2 separate regions of the Homo sapiens genome follow, and region 1 is linked to region 2. Evidence: fine-mapped expression QTL. Tissue or cell type: whole blood. Region 2 holds a variant in brackets; the other region holds the start of a gene. All regions are shown on one strand. Distances are between the middles of the regions. Region 1 holds the start of BEND7 (BEN domain containing 7). Region 2 has its middle 15 kb from the start of PRPF18.

Evidence for each region.
Region 1: BEND7 starts here. The variant in region 2 is fine-mapped to the expression of BEND7 in whole blood (TOPMed, PIP above 0.99).

What each region holds. Positions count from the first base shown.
Region 1 is chr10:13,525,249-13,533,588 of GRCh38, reverse strand. It overlaps BEND7 (BEN domain containing 7), which reads left to right and starts at 4,575. Exons shown (of 9, transcript NM_001369863.1): 1 at 4,575-5,116; 2 at 7,368-7,451. The coding sequence starts at 5,056. It overlaps BEND7-DT (BEND7 divergent transcript), which reads right to left and starts at 4,985. Exons shown (of 2, transcript XR_930674.3): 1 at 4,937-4,985; 2 at 3,325-3,569.
Region 2 is chr10:13,567,424-13,575,763 of GRCh38, reverse strand. No RefSeq gene overlaps it. Among named protein-coding and RNA genes, the nearest start is that of PRPF18, 15 kb to the left of the region's middle. The variant C/T (reference allele first, on the strand shown) is at 5,158.

The sequences.
Region 1 (8,340 bases), 42 kb after region 2:
TATACCAATCTCATAGAACTATTAAGAGTTAGATAATGCATACCTATGCTTGAGCTGTAAAAGAAGCCCCATATAAAATATAAGGTAATATTATTTGTGGAACATTCCAACTCTCATTTTCACTTATGAAATATCTTATAAATACTGCCTCCTTTCTCTTAAATTACAATCACCAAAACCAATGAAGTAAACGGGTGTAGAAACTGCATTAGGCCAGCAACACTTGGGAAACGGCAGCTAAAAGGAGGGCATCTATTCCTTCCATGACCGTCTGATGGGTGATTGTCCTAATGTTGAAAAGTGGATATTTATACATATTAAATCTTCCTGAAGGATTCCCAGAATCTATTTAATGACAGGATATTCAATTCCAGAAAATCCAATCAAAGATTATAAAAAGCCTGAAGCCCAATAATTCCATTCTGCTCATCTTCTTTCTGAGGTGTATTAATAAAACAGTTAAACAGTAATCAAGTTGTAGACATACTACATCTACGTACATAGCATGGTTCAAATCATACATTCCTTCTAAATCTGAGCTGCCCAGTATGGTCACCTGTAACTACATGTGACTATGGACAATTTGAAATTTGGCTAGTTTGAATTGATTTGTAATCTAAGGGTAAGATGCATACCAATTTCAAAACTTTGTATAACAAAAAGCATATAAACTATCTCAATAATAATATTCTCATATTATGTGTCAAAATGATAATATTTTAATGTATTCAGTTAAATAAGATAAATTATTAAAATGAATTTCATCTGTTTATTTTTACTTTTTTCAGTGTGGCTAATAGGACATTTTAAATTACATACATAGCTTGCATTGTATTTCTATTCGACAGCAGAGCTCTAAATAAAGATGAAACTTTTCATAATGCTATTCCTCTCAGGACAGTTTTCAGGAAGAGCATTTCAAGTATTAGCGGTAAGGTTACTTCAGGTTTTCTGGCCAAATTATCTGGCTTTGTCAAAGATTGAAACCAACATGTAATCTTTATAATCAAGTGGGTTTAAGCATGGCCATATAATAAAATGTTTGCCCTGCGTGATGTCATTGAATATTTGACCAATTATCTCTGATCTCCAGTAACACATAAACCTGTGGTTCTGGAACTTTAGGGGGCCTTTAAGAATGAGGCAAAGAGTGCTAGCTTCGGCAGCACATATACTAAAATTGGAAAGAATGGGGTAAAGAAATGACTTCAGTAGATCCCCTAGAAAACTTTCCAGGACCCCTCAATACAGACATTATATTTGAGTGAAAACAAGATGGCTACAGACTGATTTGTGTCCCCCACAAACTCATATGTTGAATCCCTGACTCCTAACGTGACTGTATCTGGAGATTGAACCTTTAATAGAAGGTAATTAAGGTTAAAAGAGATCATAAAGGCGGAGCCCTAATTTGATAAGATTGGTGGCCTTACAAGAAGAGGGAGAGAAAGACAGCTCTCTTCCTATGCCATGTAAGTGTAGTGGTGTGCAAGCTAAGAAAAGGGCCCTCGCCAGAAACTGACCCTGCCAGACCTAGATCTGAAACTTGCAGCCTTTAGAATGGTAAGAAAATAAGCTGCTGTTAAGTCACCCAGTATGTGGTATTTGTTAAGATAGCCCGAACAGGCTAATACAGTAGTCCCCCTTTATCCATGATTTCAGTTACCTGCAGTCACCTATGGCCTGCAAATATTGAATGGAAACTTCCAGAAATAAACAATGCATCAATTTAAAATTGTGCCCCATTTTGAGTGGCATGATGAAATCTTTAGCCAACCTGCTCCTTCCGGCCCAGAATAGGAATCATTCTTTAGCCTAGCGTATTCACATTGTCTGCACTATCTGCTCGTTAGTCACTTGTTGGCTTGGTTATTAGAAAACATAAAACAATAAAAAACACGGTATATATGGGGTTTGATGGTAACATAGTATATACGGGGTTCGGTACTATCCTCAGGTTCAGACATCCACTGAAGGTCTTGGACATACTCCCCAAGGATAAGGATCAGCTACTATATGGATACCTGCTACTTAAAGCAATCTCACTTTATGTTTTATTTTATATTTTAATTTTTTGGTAGAGACCGGGTCTCAGGATGTTATCCAGGTTGGTCTTGAATTTCTGGCCTTAAGCAATCCTTCTGTATCCCAAAATGTTGGGATTACAGGTGTGAGCCACTACACCTGGCCCCAAGCAACCTCATTTTAATTAAACATTATTATTAATTTTAATACTAAATGTGATATATACATTTTTGTTAGATAAGAGCATAGTGATTTGCACAAAATGCAGAGTAAACAGACATTTATTTTCTCTAAAAGCTAATAAGACAAGCGTAGCCTGTGTCCTCTGCAGGCCAACTCACTCATAGACCAACTTTGGAAAGCCAGGTTAAAAAGGGTCAAGGAGAAATGACTACTATTTAAAAATATTCTTACTCAAATATTTTATTCTTAACTATATCAAAAATATTCTCTTCAGTAAATGGAATTTGCATTCCCACTTGAACTGAAAATGCTAAGTTGTTAATACCTTCTCCAGGGATTTACTTCTTGGGATGACACCTTCACTGGGTTCGTCATAGTTTAAGCATAATAAAATCTCATTATATGCTCCAAAGCATGAACGATCCGGGAAGTTCCTCAGTCAGTGTAGAACTTAGCCTTACGGCTTTGAGAATAACATTTTAAAAGGCATTACATAAAGAAAGAATGGATCCCAGCCTGGGGAACAAAATTGCATGCTTTGTTTCTTTAAAAACATCCAAAACAGCCGGACGTGGTGGTTCACGCCTGTAATCCCAGCACTTTGGGAGGCCTAGGCGGGCTGATCACTTGAGGTCAGGAGTTTGAAACCAGCCTGGCCAACATGGCGAAACCCCATCTCTACTAAAATACAAAAAATTAGCTGGGCGTGGTGGCCCATGCCTGTAATCCTAGCTACTTGGGAGGCTGAGGCAGGAAAATCGCTTGAACCCGGGAGGTGGAGGTTGCAGTAAGCTGAGATCGCACCACTGCACTCCATCCTGGGCGACAGAATGAGACTCTGTCTCAAAAAATAAAAAATAAAAAAAAATCCAAAACATCTTCAGATTTTAATGCCTGATTTTAAAGAAAGGGGTGGCAGGGAAGGAAGAAACCCAAATAGGGTAGTTGCTTTAATCACTGTTACCACTAATTTTCTGAGAGCAGCAAAGCGCGTCTAAGAACTCCAATAAATCTATACTAAATTTTATATGTCCCATACATATTTTCTGGGAAAAAGGGCCCTTGAGCTTTGAACACAATCTCAAAGGAAACAGTGACTAAAAAAGGTTAAGAACCTCTTGTTGAAGGGTTTGCTTTATTGAACGGAAGAAACAGTTCTCCCTCTCCCCTCCACGCTAGGTATAACCAGCCTTCCGGATGTGCCGCCTTTGGTATCACCCAAGATCTCGGGATGGGTACCCATCCCTGCCTCCACTGCCTGGTTTGCTGGTTACCCTGCTCTTTGGTTCTGTTTCTCCATGTGTGTTTCTGCAAGCTGCCTCAATGTCCCCCTTCCTCGGCAGTTGTCCTACTCTGTGTCCCTGAAATAAGAGCGGTTCCTCAGCGGCTGCCTCATTTGGGTGAGACCCACGTGACACTCATCACATTTGTCAACCTCCCCTTTTTCCTCTCTACTCTTTTGGGGCCACTGGCCTTTGTCCCGTGCCGGAGAGGTAGCCCCCCCATCCCCCGACTCTTTACCCTCTTCCTGGTTGGGTTTGGCAGATACTTTCACGCATGTCCCGTCATGTTCCTGTCCTACCATTCCCAGGTAGTGTGAAATTCTTTTCCTGGCCCACTCGAAAGATGTGAGAAAGAAATGGTGCCTGAAGTGCGCTCTCTGATCCCCCGAAAAGAATATTACACATAACTACTAAGCGCTTTGTGTTTGGGTCCATGATTCCGACATATGACGTGGAGAAGCATAGTGCCCTGCACCTGCCTTGACCATGGCCTCCTGAGAGTCCCCAGGGCCACCAAGCCCCCCATTCCAAGTGCTCTCCTTGAATGTGACTCGGCTCTTTCCACAATCCGCCCAGCCTGGGTTAGGGAATGGGAGCTCTCTACTATATTCTTCTCCACAATATTCTAAAACCTCCTCTCTGTCCTTCTAGAGAGAGCGCAAATGGGTAAGTTTTTTCCCCCTAAAACTTGCTTAAAATCAGCGCGTCGGGCCCCGGGGCGCCCGGGATGTGAGGGCGGGGAGGTGGTTGTCGGGGCGGTCCGCGCCCCCACGGCGAGGTGCACGGAGTTAGCTCGGCCCAGCAAGCGGCGGAGGGAGGCCAGCGAGCGGGGTCTGCGAGCGGAGGCCCGGGCGGCGGCGTCGTCCCCGGGGGCAGGCAGGCCGGCCGGGCCCGGGCCAGGGCGCTGCGCCGCGGCCTCCGCGCCTCCTCGGGGCGCCGCGCGGCCAGGCCGGCGGCGGCCCCCGGGGATGGCGGCGGCCGGGCTCCGCCAGCAGGTGGCCCTGGGGTCCCAGCGGCACCGCCCCCTCCGCCGGCGCCCCTCCTCCCGCGGGGGCGGTCAGCGCCCCGGCCGGCTCTGCACCCGCCGCCGCCCTCCCCGCAGCCCGCCCGCCGCGTCTTCGGGGCCGCCGCCGCCGCCGCCGCGACCGCAGGCTGAGCCCAGGCGGGCCGGCCGCCCCGAGCCGCCCCCCGCCTCCGCCGCCGCCGCCGCGCCCCGGCCCGGCCCGCTCCCAACGGAAAGTTGGGCTGCGGCGGGCGGCGTCTGGAACCCGCGGGCCGGCATGAGCGGGGGCCGCGGGGGCGCCTAGGGCACCGGGAGGCGGCGCCGCGCGGGGGCAACTTCGCCCGGGAGCCCACGCCGCCGGGCCCCGCGCCTGCAGCCCCGAGCCGGCTCGCGGTGGTTCCTCCCGTCCCGCGGCCTCCCCTCGCCGACTCCAGGCGCGGACCTTGGTCCCGGCGGCTCCGCCGCGGTGACACGAGCCCGCGCCGCCGCTGCCGCTGCCGCCGCTGCCGCTGCCGCCGCTGCCGCCGCCTCCTCAGCCCCCGCCGCCGCCTTCCCCGCACCATGGAGTTCTCCGAGAGGAAAAGAAGCAGGAAATCCCAGAGCTTCAAACTGGTGAGCCGAGGTAAGCGGCCGCCGGGGCGGCGGGGGCAGGCAGCGGGCGCCGCGCCCTCGGCCGCCCGCGGGGGTCCACGCTGGGGGGCGCGCCCTCCCGGAGCCCCCGGTCCTTCCCGGTCCCCCGGTGCCTCCGCCGGGCTGGCAGGCAGGGCCGCGGCCGCACACGCCGGGCGGCGGGGAAAGTTGTGCGGGGGGAGCAGGGATGTTATTTAACGTAAACAAGTCGGAGGGCAGCTCAGGAAATTAGCAAACAATGACACCGGGGGGCCCGAGCCCTCCTCGGGGCGCCTCCGGGGCAGGGCTGGGGCGGCCGCGGACCTGCCTGGCCATCAGGCCGAGCGTGGACCCTCGGACCTGAGATTTGCTGTTTTTGTTTTCTGGGGTCTTCCCCCTTCCCCCCGCCAAGAGAAGGAGGAAAAAGGATGACCGTTGTTGTTCTTTTTAAGAAGGAGAAAGAAGCTCACGCCGTGTCCAAGCCCAAGGCGGAATTGTTGACATCCAACATCTCTAGCTAGCTGATTTGGGTTGGAAAGGTGTTTTAGACTAGATCATATAGCAGTCAGATAAGCATCCTTTAAAAAAAAGAAAAAAGAAAAGAAAGAAAAGAAATCCATCTAGTTTCTGACGAATTAACAGGTGTACACCACACTCTAGGGTTTGTATTTTGTCAGGGAGGGGAAAGTGGAATACAGTCTTGTCTGTGTTCAGTTACTTGTTAAGAGTCTTTATCTTCCTGATTTGACTTTTTTTTTTAAAAAAATGATAACTCAAGAGCCATCGTGAAAATATATCTCAAAATGCATTGTCATCTTTAATTAGGGGCAGGTGACTTTTTTCATTGTAATGTCACAAGTCCTCATATTGAGTTTAGACCCGCTCTGTTTAAATGTCGTCTTTTAATCAAGTTGAGGTCAAAGCCAAACCCCAACCTGTCCACTTTTCCTCTGTCGTTTTCTCTAGCATTGGCATCAGGGTAGAAACTCCAACAACCTGCAGAAGTCACGTGTAAACTGATGAAAATTAGTGAAAAAATCGTGGACAATTGCAAGTAATCGAATTTTTCAAACTGAGCTAAGCTAGCTAAGATGTGGATTTGGTTCATCTGAAAATGCTTTGATTATAGGCATTTTGAAGATCCATTCTTATCTGCCTCCCCTAATTTAGTTTGGATACTGTTTAATGAAAGAGGCCTGAAATAGTTTCACGCATTCAAAATACTTGGCTCTTCCCACTTTCTGAGTAAATTTTTTTTTCCACATCCGTGTTGATTACTCAGTTACTTGGACTTTTAAAAGTCTCTGTCTGGGTGATTGCCCTGTTGGTGCTATCTGATTCATTCAGGAATGTAAGCTGCTTTCTTATTGATGACCTCAGAGAACTTAACTGCTTTATCTTAAAAGTGAGAGTAGTTTTGTTGACTTTGTCCTGTGAGGTCTAAGGCCAGAGAAAGGGGACTAGGTGTTAAGGAGGAACCTCTATTTTCATGCCTTAGTGACCCTGCTTTTCAAAAATAGAAGCAAAAATGCAGTAGCCTCCATAGAGAAGCTTGTAAAATACTGTATTTGAAACTTTGACTGACGTAGCAAGTTTTTCCTTTTTCCTTTTTTCTTTTTCTTTTAATTATAGGTCTGATTCTTCTCTTTCTCTGCAGGTGCAGTTTTAGAAAATAAACTTGCATATTAAATAAAGTGCAGTAGCTGAATGCGAAAGAGTCACTTGTGTGAAAGATGAAAATCTTGCTTTCTTATCCAAATCATACTACATTTGAAATAACAAATCAGTATTTTTCATGTGTGCTTGCCTTTAAGCTGCTTAAAGGCTGAGATTTTCTGGGTAAACTGAGAAAACTAGAGTGCTGGCTAAACTTTAAAGCATACTGTTGATATGCTGGTGAAAATGGGTTGTGAAGAGAAATTTGGAAACCTCCCCTGCTCTATGATTGGGCAAACATACTTGCCACCTCAAAGAAAAAAAGCCTAAAAATTGGCATCTGTGGGTACAATTTACCGTGAACATGGTGTGATCAAGCAAAGCTGTCTTCTAAAGCCAAAGTAATCTTTCAAGTTTGCGTACTCCAGAATAAGCAAAGTTTTAGGAATTATTATTGACTACAAATTCTGTGATTATTTCAGTTCTCAAAAAGTTTATTTATAAATTATAGAGTATACAAACTAAATAGAATGAGATTCTAGACTTGACTGCTTATTCCTATCTTGAGGTCCTTAGGATTCTAATTTTTGGTTGTTTTCTCATGCCAGATTATCACCACGAGGTGTATAAGATCCCAGAATTCAGCAACGATGTTAATGGGGAGGCCAAAGAGACACAGCCCATTTTTTTAGGTAGGTTCCTATGTCAATTAATACCTCAGCAAAACATCGTGACCATTTGCAATTAGGGGGAAAAAAGGAAATTGTTCAGGAACGGGAAATGTCTGCCATTGCTTAATGTATGACATTCTTTTCAAGACCTTTTATTTTACAGATTGCCAATATATCCCTTATTAACATTGCTAAAAGTTGTAATTTCAGACATAAATGTTTATTAGTGTCTACACACAGTGCTAATTATCACTCACTCACAGAGCCAGATGCTGACTGTGCAGTTTTGTGGCTCTGCGCTCACCCCATTTACATTGCATATTCGTTGGCATGCTTCACTGGCAATAGTTTGTGTAATTGGGGTATTACATCTTTGACATCTGGATAACAGAAATTCAATTTCCAGGAAGCTGCTATTTGTTTGGTTTTGCTTCTGCCTTGGGTGGGATAGAGGATTAATGTGCTGTCTTATAATGTCCCTTCACCTCTGTGGCCCAGTTGCTAATCCTGCCATGACAAAATTAAATTAAATCTACAGTCAAAAAGCATAAGGAAAATAAAAGTGTGACTGTCTGCCTAACCAGCTCTTGATAGTGCTAGTTATCATCAAGCAGCTCCTCATTTTCCTGACTTTGTGCTCCTTTCACACCAGCATTTTGGGACAGGGGGAACAGCATGCTTTCCTCTTACCATCCTTGTTCCCAGCTCACGTCAGGGATGAGCAGAGCTAAAACAGCATTTCTGAGACTTTCCAGCAAGTGTAGCTGCATGATGGGTGGGTAGGTAGCCACAAACATTGCCACCTTTTCCATGTGCAGTGTTGGTGCAAATACTGTACAGGAAAGACTTTGGATGTGCAGTTTTTTATTTGCACACAATCAGCCAAAAATGAAACCACGTAAGATTTTGC
Region 2 (8,340 bases):
TGATTCAATCATTTTCCAAGAAAACCCTACAAGCCATTGACTTTTTAAAAACTAGAATTAACAAGGAAATGTAATATAGCTAAATTCAAAATAAGTTTAAAATTGATGTTTTTTCTGTGCATGCAATAATGAGATAGAAGTGGAAATAGGAAAATGTTACATTTAAAAAGTACAAAATCTTAGAAATAAAGAACAAAAAAGTCCAGATTCCATGGGGAAAGGTTTATAAAATGTTATTGAAGGATATAAAGCAACACCCAGATAAAGGAATGACAAAATATGTTACTAGCTAAGGAGGCAAAATAACATAAAATCAATTTTCCAAAAAGTAATATAGAGAGTCCATGTTTCAGTTATAATTCCTTTTTTTTTTTTTCTTCAAGATGGACTCTCACTGTCACCCAGGCTGGAGTACAGTGGCATAATCTCGGCCCACTGCAACCTTCGCCTCCCAGGTTCAAGCGATTCTCCTCCCTCAGCCTCCCGAGTAGCTGGAATTACAGGCACCCACCAGCATGCCCAGCTAATTTTTGTATTTTTAGTAGAGACGAGGTTTTGCTATGTTGGCCAGGCTGGTCTTGAGCTCCTGACCTCAAGTGATCCGCCCTCCTCGGCCTCTCAAAGTGCTGGGATTACAGGCATAAGCCGCTGCACACAGCCTACATGAGGAAAGATTTATAAAGTGTCATTGAAGGATATAAAGCAACACCCAAATAAAGGAATAGCAAAATATGCTATTGGCTAAGGAGGTAAAATAACATAAAGTCAAATGTCCAAAAAGTAATATAGAGAGTCCATGTTTCACTTATAATTCTTATGGTACAGGGTTTTGTAATAGAAGAAACTGGTCTTCAAGATCATATGGAAGTATAAATTTCCAATAATAGTCATAAAAATCATGGAAAAGCATAGTGAGTTTTTGCTTCTGAGCTAGAAGGCTAACTGCCATAAGAACTGCTCTCCTACCATAAACAACTACAAAAAAAAACAGACAAAATATATAAAACAACTATTTCTCACACATTTGATAACCAGCAGTAAAGAGCTTCTCTTCTCTTCATGGAGAGAAGAGAAAACACATAAAGTGAGCCCTACCTCATGGATTCCTGGATTCTTGGAATTCTGGAGGCAGTTTCCAGGATACAGCACAGGAAGGAGAAACCCCAACAGAACCCACTTGCCTCACTGAGTAGAGGAAAAAGAAATTGCGGTTCTGGGAGATTGAAGAGGTGAAATCCATGGAGCAGAATACTGGAAAGGAGAGAGAGGCACTGGAAAGAAAGAGAGAAAGAGAGAAAGGAAGGAAGAAAGAAAGGAAGGAAGGAAGGGAGGGAGGGAAGGAGGGAAGGAGGGATGAGAGAGAGAGAGGAAGGAAAGAAGGAATGAAGGAAGGAAGGAAGGGAAAGAAAAGAATGCAGAGAATGCATTCTCTAGACAATAAATGATAAATATAGTGTTTTATGTTTAATGTGAATACACATAAACGTAATTAAGAGAGAGATGGAAGAAAACAAAACCCAAATGGAACCTCTAGAGATGAAAAACACAATATCTGAAATAAAGAATACTCTGGACAGCATTAACAGCAGATAAGGCACAGCAGAAGAAAATACTGGTGAACTTGGAGACAGTAAAAATGATTCGAAGAAAGAGAGAGAGATTTTTTTAACGTGAAGCCAGCATCAGTGACCCATGGCATAGTATCAAGCAGTTTAACGTGTCTGTAATGGAGCCCAGAAAGGTTATAGGTCTGGAGATATGTCAAGAATTAATGGCCAAATATTTCTCAAGTTTGATGGAAACTAGAAGACACTCAGATCCCAAAAGTTCATGGACCCCGGCAGAAAACTGCACCAAGGTAGATCACAGTCAAATTTCTGAGAAGCAGCGACTAAAGAACATGTGTTAAAAGCTGCTCACAAAAATTATTACATAAAGAAAAAAAAAGAAAAGAATGACTACACATTTCCTATCAGAAACCACGCAGGCCAGAGGACAAAGAAGTGACATTTTTTAAGTATTAGGGGACAAAAACTGTCAACCTAGGATTCTATACTCTGCAAAAATATCAAAAATGAAAGTAAACTGAAGGTTTTTTTCAGACAAAGGTTGAGAGAATTCATCACCAGTAAACCTGTACTATAAAGAGTATCAAAGAAAGTTCTTCAGTCTGAAGAAAAATCATGCAAAATAAAAAGGAAAGAAAAATGTAGAATTGCTAAACATCTGGATAAATATGAAAGGCTTCTCATTTTTAATATATTTTTTAAAAGTAATTGACTATTTAAATCAATAATTGCATTAAGAGGCTGGGCACAGTGGCTCAAGCCTGTAATCCCAGCACTTTGGGAGGCCAAGGCAGGCGGATCACCTGAGGTCAGGAATTCAAGACCAGCCTGGTCAACATGGCAAAACCGCGTCTCTACTAAAAATACAAAAATTAGCTGGGCGTGGTGACACACGCCTGTAATCCCAGCTACTCGGGAGGCTGAGGCAGGAGAATCGCTTGAGCCTGGGAGGCAGAGATTGCAGTGAGCTGAGATTGTGCCACTGCACTCCAGCCTGAGTGACCGAGTGAGACTCCGTCTCAAAAAAAATACATAAAATAATGATAATAATAATTGCATTAAGTGCAAATTGACTAAACAGTACAATTGAAAGGCAGAAATTATTAGACTGGATTTTCAAAAACAAATCAACTGTATGTTGTCTCATTGGTTTTTTGAAACAGAGTCTTGCTCTGTCGCCCAGGCTGTAGTACAGTGGCACGATCCAGGCTCACTGCAAGAATCTCACTTTAAATATAAAGTTAGAGGTAAAGGATGGGAAATGATATTCCCATGCAACCATTAATAAAAAGAAATGAAACTACCTGTCTTAGTCTGGTTGAGTTGCCGTAAAAAATATCTTAGGCTGGGTGATTTATAAACAATAGTTTATAGTTCTGACGCTGGGAAGCCCAAGATCAAGATGCCAGCAGATTTGGTGTCTGGTGAGAGCCTGTTCCTCATAGATGACAGCTTCGTGCTGTGTCCTCACATGGCAAAAGGGGTAAGCCTGGCCTCTTTTATAAGGGTCAAGCCTTTTATGAAGGCACTGATCCTATTCGTGAGGGCAGAGTTCTTTCAAAAAAAAAATCACCTCCCAAAGCCCCCACTTATTAATACCATCACTTTGGGGGTTAAGTTTCAACATATGAATTTTGAGAGACTACAAACATTCAGATCATAGCAGTGACTATGTTAATTAGACAAAGCAAAATTCTGAATAAGGAACATTAATAGGGAGAAAGAAGAACATTTCATAATGATAAAAATGTCACTGCACCAAGAGGACATCACAATCTCAAATGAGTATTAACATAGCGTCAAAATGCATGAAGCAAAAGATGTTAGATCTCAAAGGACAAGTAAACAAGTCTACACTTATAGGTGGAGATTTCCACACATCACTATCAGTAATTGAGAGAACAAGTGGACAGAAAATCAGCAAGGATATATAAGACTTGTACATTATCAATTAGCATGACCCAATTGAAATTTATATAACATTCTGCCCCAAACATCAGAATACATACTCTTTTTAAAGTCCATTTGGAACATGCACTAAGATCATATTCTGAAGCATTAAACAATTCTCAATAAATTTCAAATAATTAAAAATATACGGTGTATGTTCTTTGACAACAATGAATTAAACTAGAAATAGCAGAAAAATATCTAGAAAACTCCAGTATTTGGAAATTAAACAGTACGGTTACAAATAATCCATAGGATCAAAAAAGTAATCACAAGGGAAATTAGCAAGTTTCATTTTTTTAGACAGGGTCTTGCTGTCACCCAGGCTGGAGTGCAGTGGCATGATCATGGCTTGCTGCAGCCTCCACCTCCTGAGCTCAAGTGATCCTCACACCTTAGTCCCCAAAATAGCTTGTGCCATGGTCATGTGCCACCACACTCGGCTCATTTTGTTTTTATTTTTTGTAGAGATAGGGTTTCGTCACATTGCCCAGGCTGGAAATTAGTAAGTATTTTGAACTAAGCTAAGCACAGTAGTACACACTTGTCCCAGCTACTCGGGAGACAGAGGTGGGAGAACCACTTGAACCTGCGAGGCGGAGGTTTCAGTGAGCTGAGAGTGCACCACTGTACTCCAGCCTGGGCAACAGAGAGAGATTCTGTCTCAAACAAACAAACAAGCAAACAAACAAAACCCTGTGGGGTGGAAATAGAAATCTCCAAGTCCTGAGAGTTTCACTGGAGACTTATCATATATTTAAAGTAGTAACACCAATTTTGCAGTTCTTCCAGAAAATATAAGAGGGAGTACTTCCCAACTAATTTTTATGAGGCCAGTTTCCCAGAAACCAAAACCTAACAAACACATTACAGAAAAATAAAACTATAGACCAATATCACTTATGAACTTAGACACAAAATTCCTCAACCGAATATTAGCAACTTGAATCCAACAATGTATAAAAATCATTATACACCATGAAAAGGTAGGATTTTTTTCTTTCCATAGCTTTTGGAGTACAAGTGGTTTTGGTTACACAGATGAATTGTAGAGTGGTGAAGTCTAAGATTTTAGTGTGCCTGTCACCCAAGTCCTGTACATTGTACTGAATATGCAGTTTTTTATCCCCCACCGCCCTCCCACCCTCCTTCCTTCTGAATCTCTAAAGTCTATTATACCAGTGTGCATGACTTTGCATACCCATAGCTTAGCTCCCACTTACAAGTGAGAATATACTGTGTTTGATTTTCCATTCCTGAGTTACTTCTCTTGGAACAATGGCCTTCAGCTTCATCCAGGTTGCTGAAAAGACATTATTTCACTTTTTTACAGCTGAGTAGATTCTATGGTGTATATATACCACATTTTCTTTACCCACTCATCGGTTGATTGGCACTTTGGTTGATTCCATATCTTTGCAATTGTGAATTGTGCTGTGATAAATATATATATGCAGGTGTCTTCTTGATAGAATGACTTCTTTTCCTTTGGGTAGATACCCAGTAGCCAGATTGCTGGATCAAATGGTAGATCTACTTTTGTTCCTTAAGAAGTCTCCATACCACTTTCCATAGAGGTTGTACTAACTTACATTCCCACCTTCCTTTTTTAGCATGTCTGTGCCAACATCTATTGTTT[C/T]CTGACTTTGGTTTTTTTTTTTTTTTTTTTTTTTTTGAGTCAGAGTGTCGCTCTTGTTGCCCAGGCCGGAGTGCAGTGGTGCAATCTCAGCTCACTGCAACCTCCGCCTCCTGGGTTCAAGTGATTCTCTTGCCTCAACCTCCCGAGTAGCTGGGATTATAGGCGCCCGCCACCACATCCGGCTAATTTCTTGTATTTTTAGTAGAGATGGGGTTTCGCCATGTTGGGCAGGCTGGTCTCGAACTCCTGACATCAGGTGATCTGCCCACCTCAGCCTCCCAAAGTGCTGGGATTACAGGCTTGAGCCACTGCACCTGGCCTGTTTTCTGACTTTTTAATAATGGTGGTCTGGCTGGGGTAAGGTGGTATCTCTTTGTGATTTTAATTTGCATTTCCCTAATGATTAGTAATGTTGAGCATTTCTTCATATATTTGCTGGCCATTTGTATATCTTCTTTTGAGAAATGTCTATTCATGTCATTTGCCTACTTTTTGATGGGATTATTTATTTTTCTGGCTGGTTTGTTTGAGTTCCTTGTAGATTCTGGATATTAGCCCTTTGTTGGATGCATCGTTTGCAAATATTTTCTCCCATTCTGTGGGTTGTCTGTTTACTCTGATGATTATTTCTTTTGGCATGCAAAAGCTTCTTCAATACAGTCCTATTTATTTATTTATTTATTGCATTTGCTTTTGGGGCCTTAGTCACAAATTATTTTCCTAGGCCAATGTCCAGAAGGGGTTTTCCTAGGTTTTCTTCTAGAATTTTTATAGTTTCAGGTCTTAAAGTCTTTGATCCATCTCGAGTTGATTTTTTTATATGGTGAGAGACAGAGACCCGGTTTTATTCTTCTACATATGGCTATCCAGTTTTCCCAGCACCTTTTATTGAATAGGTTGTCCTTTCCCCAATTTATGTTTTTGTATGCTTTGTTAAAGACCAGTTGGTTGTAAGTATTTGGCTTTACTTCTGATTTCTCCACTCTGTTCCATTGGTCTATGTATCTACTTTCATACCAGTACCATGCCATTTTGTTTAATATAGCCTTGTAGTATAATTTGAAATCAGGTAATGTGATGCTTTCAGATTTGTTCTTTTTGCTTAGAATTGCTTTGGTTATTCAAGGACATAAAGTAGAACTTGTTCCAGATATGCAAGAGTGGCTCAACAAACAAAAATTGATTAATTAAAAATTTATCAATGTAATCCACTGTATCAACTGGCTAACAAAAAAAAATCATGTGACCATCTTAGTTGACACACACACAAAAAGCATTTGACAAAATCCAACACTCATTCATGATAAAAACTTGCAGCAAAGTAGGAAAGAGCATTTACCAAAAACCTACAGTCACCATCATATGTAATGGTGAAAGACTGAATGTTTCCTTGTTGGGTTGGAGAAACAACCCAAATATACATGTCAACTAATGAATGGATAAATGCACCATAGTATCATTCATTCAAAGGAACTGTATTCTGAAATAAAGAAGGAATGAACAGCTGATATATGCAACAACCTGGAAAGTCCCAAAACAGTATGTTAAGTGAAGTATTCCAGACACAGAATACTATATACTACATGATTCCGTTTATATGAAATTTCAGGAGCATTAAAAATATAGTGATAGAAAGATTAGTGACTGCCAGGAGCTGGGGCTTGGGCTGGGAATTGACTGCAGAGGGTCACGAAGGAGCATTTTTTGGAGGAGGAGGGAAATGGAAATATTCTATATCATAGTGGTTAAAAAGACACATGCACCCCCTCCCTAAACATCTTATCCTCTGATATATTCCATACTCTTCCTATTGTATCCACTCTTTAGCATCCTCTGCCACTGCATCCTTCTGTGTTAGCCATCACATCCAAAATATACAATCTTCACAGGTTTGCATCAAAAAGAGCACCACTGGCCGGGCGCAGTGGCTCAAGCCTGTAATCCCAGCACTTTGGGAGGCCGAGGTGGGTGGATCACCTGAGGTCAGGAGTTCGAGACCAGCCTGACTAGTATGGTGAAACCCCGTCTCTACTAAAAATGCAAAAATTAGCTGGGCATGGTGGTGTGCGCCTGTATTCCCAGCTACTCAGGAGGCTGAGACAGGAGAATTGCTTGAACCCAGGAGGCAGAGGTTGCAGTGAGCTGAGATCGTCCCACTGCACTCCAGCCTGGGTGACAGAGACTCCATCTCAAAAAAAAAAAGCACTGTTTATAACTACTTATAACTACAGCTGCTACAATTGACAGCACGTTCCAAAAGGAGGGACAGAACATTGAGAACATTGCAAGTGGCAGTAGTAATGGCCATGGGAAAAGCTGGCTATGAATGTCCCCCACGTGTTAGAAATATCTATCAAGACACCGTTAAAGACCACATTTCACCCAGTTTAACGTGACTTTTTTTTTCAGTTTTAACTTCTCTGAAAAGGGGACATATTTTTTCAGTTGATGACATCACGCAGTTATAATTGAGAATGTTTATTTTTCCTTCTTAGTGGTGAATTTTTTTAATGGTGCACTTTTTTTTAAATTATACTTTAATTTCTGGGGTACATATGCAGAATGTGCAGGTTTGTTATACAGGTATACACGTGCCATGGTGGTTTGCTGCTCCCATCAACCTGTCATCCACATTAGGTATTTCTCCTAATGCTATCCCTCCCCCAGCCCCCCACCCTCCGACAGGCCCCAGTGTGTGACGTTCCCCTCCTTGTATCTATGTGTTCTCAATGCTCAACTCCCACTTATGAGTGAGAACATGCAGTGTTTGGTTTTCTGTCCCTGTGTTAGTTTGCTGAGAATAATGGTTTCCAACTTCATCTATGTCCCTGCAAAGGACATGAACTCATCATTTTTTACAGCTGCATAGTATTCCATGGTATACATGTGCCACATTTTCTTTATCCAGTCTATCACTGATGGGCATTTGGGTTGGTTCCAAGTCTTTGCTATTGTGAACAGGGTGCACTTTTTTTATACCAGAGCAATTACATCAGAATCTCTGAATGAATGGCTGTCATAGAGTCAATAAAATATAGGATGGCTGGCCAGAAGACGCAGAGAATTTTGCTTTGGCTTTCAAGGGTAAGAAAGCAGAGGTGAGAGTCAAGGCAGAACTGGAAGCCTGGAACCCAAGTCCTGGATCTCCATGTTATGTTTGAAATTAATAGCCCCTTTCCCACC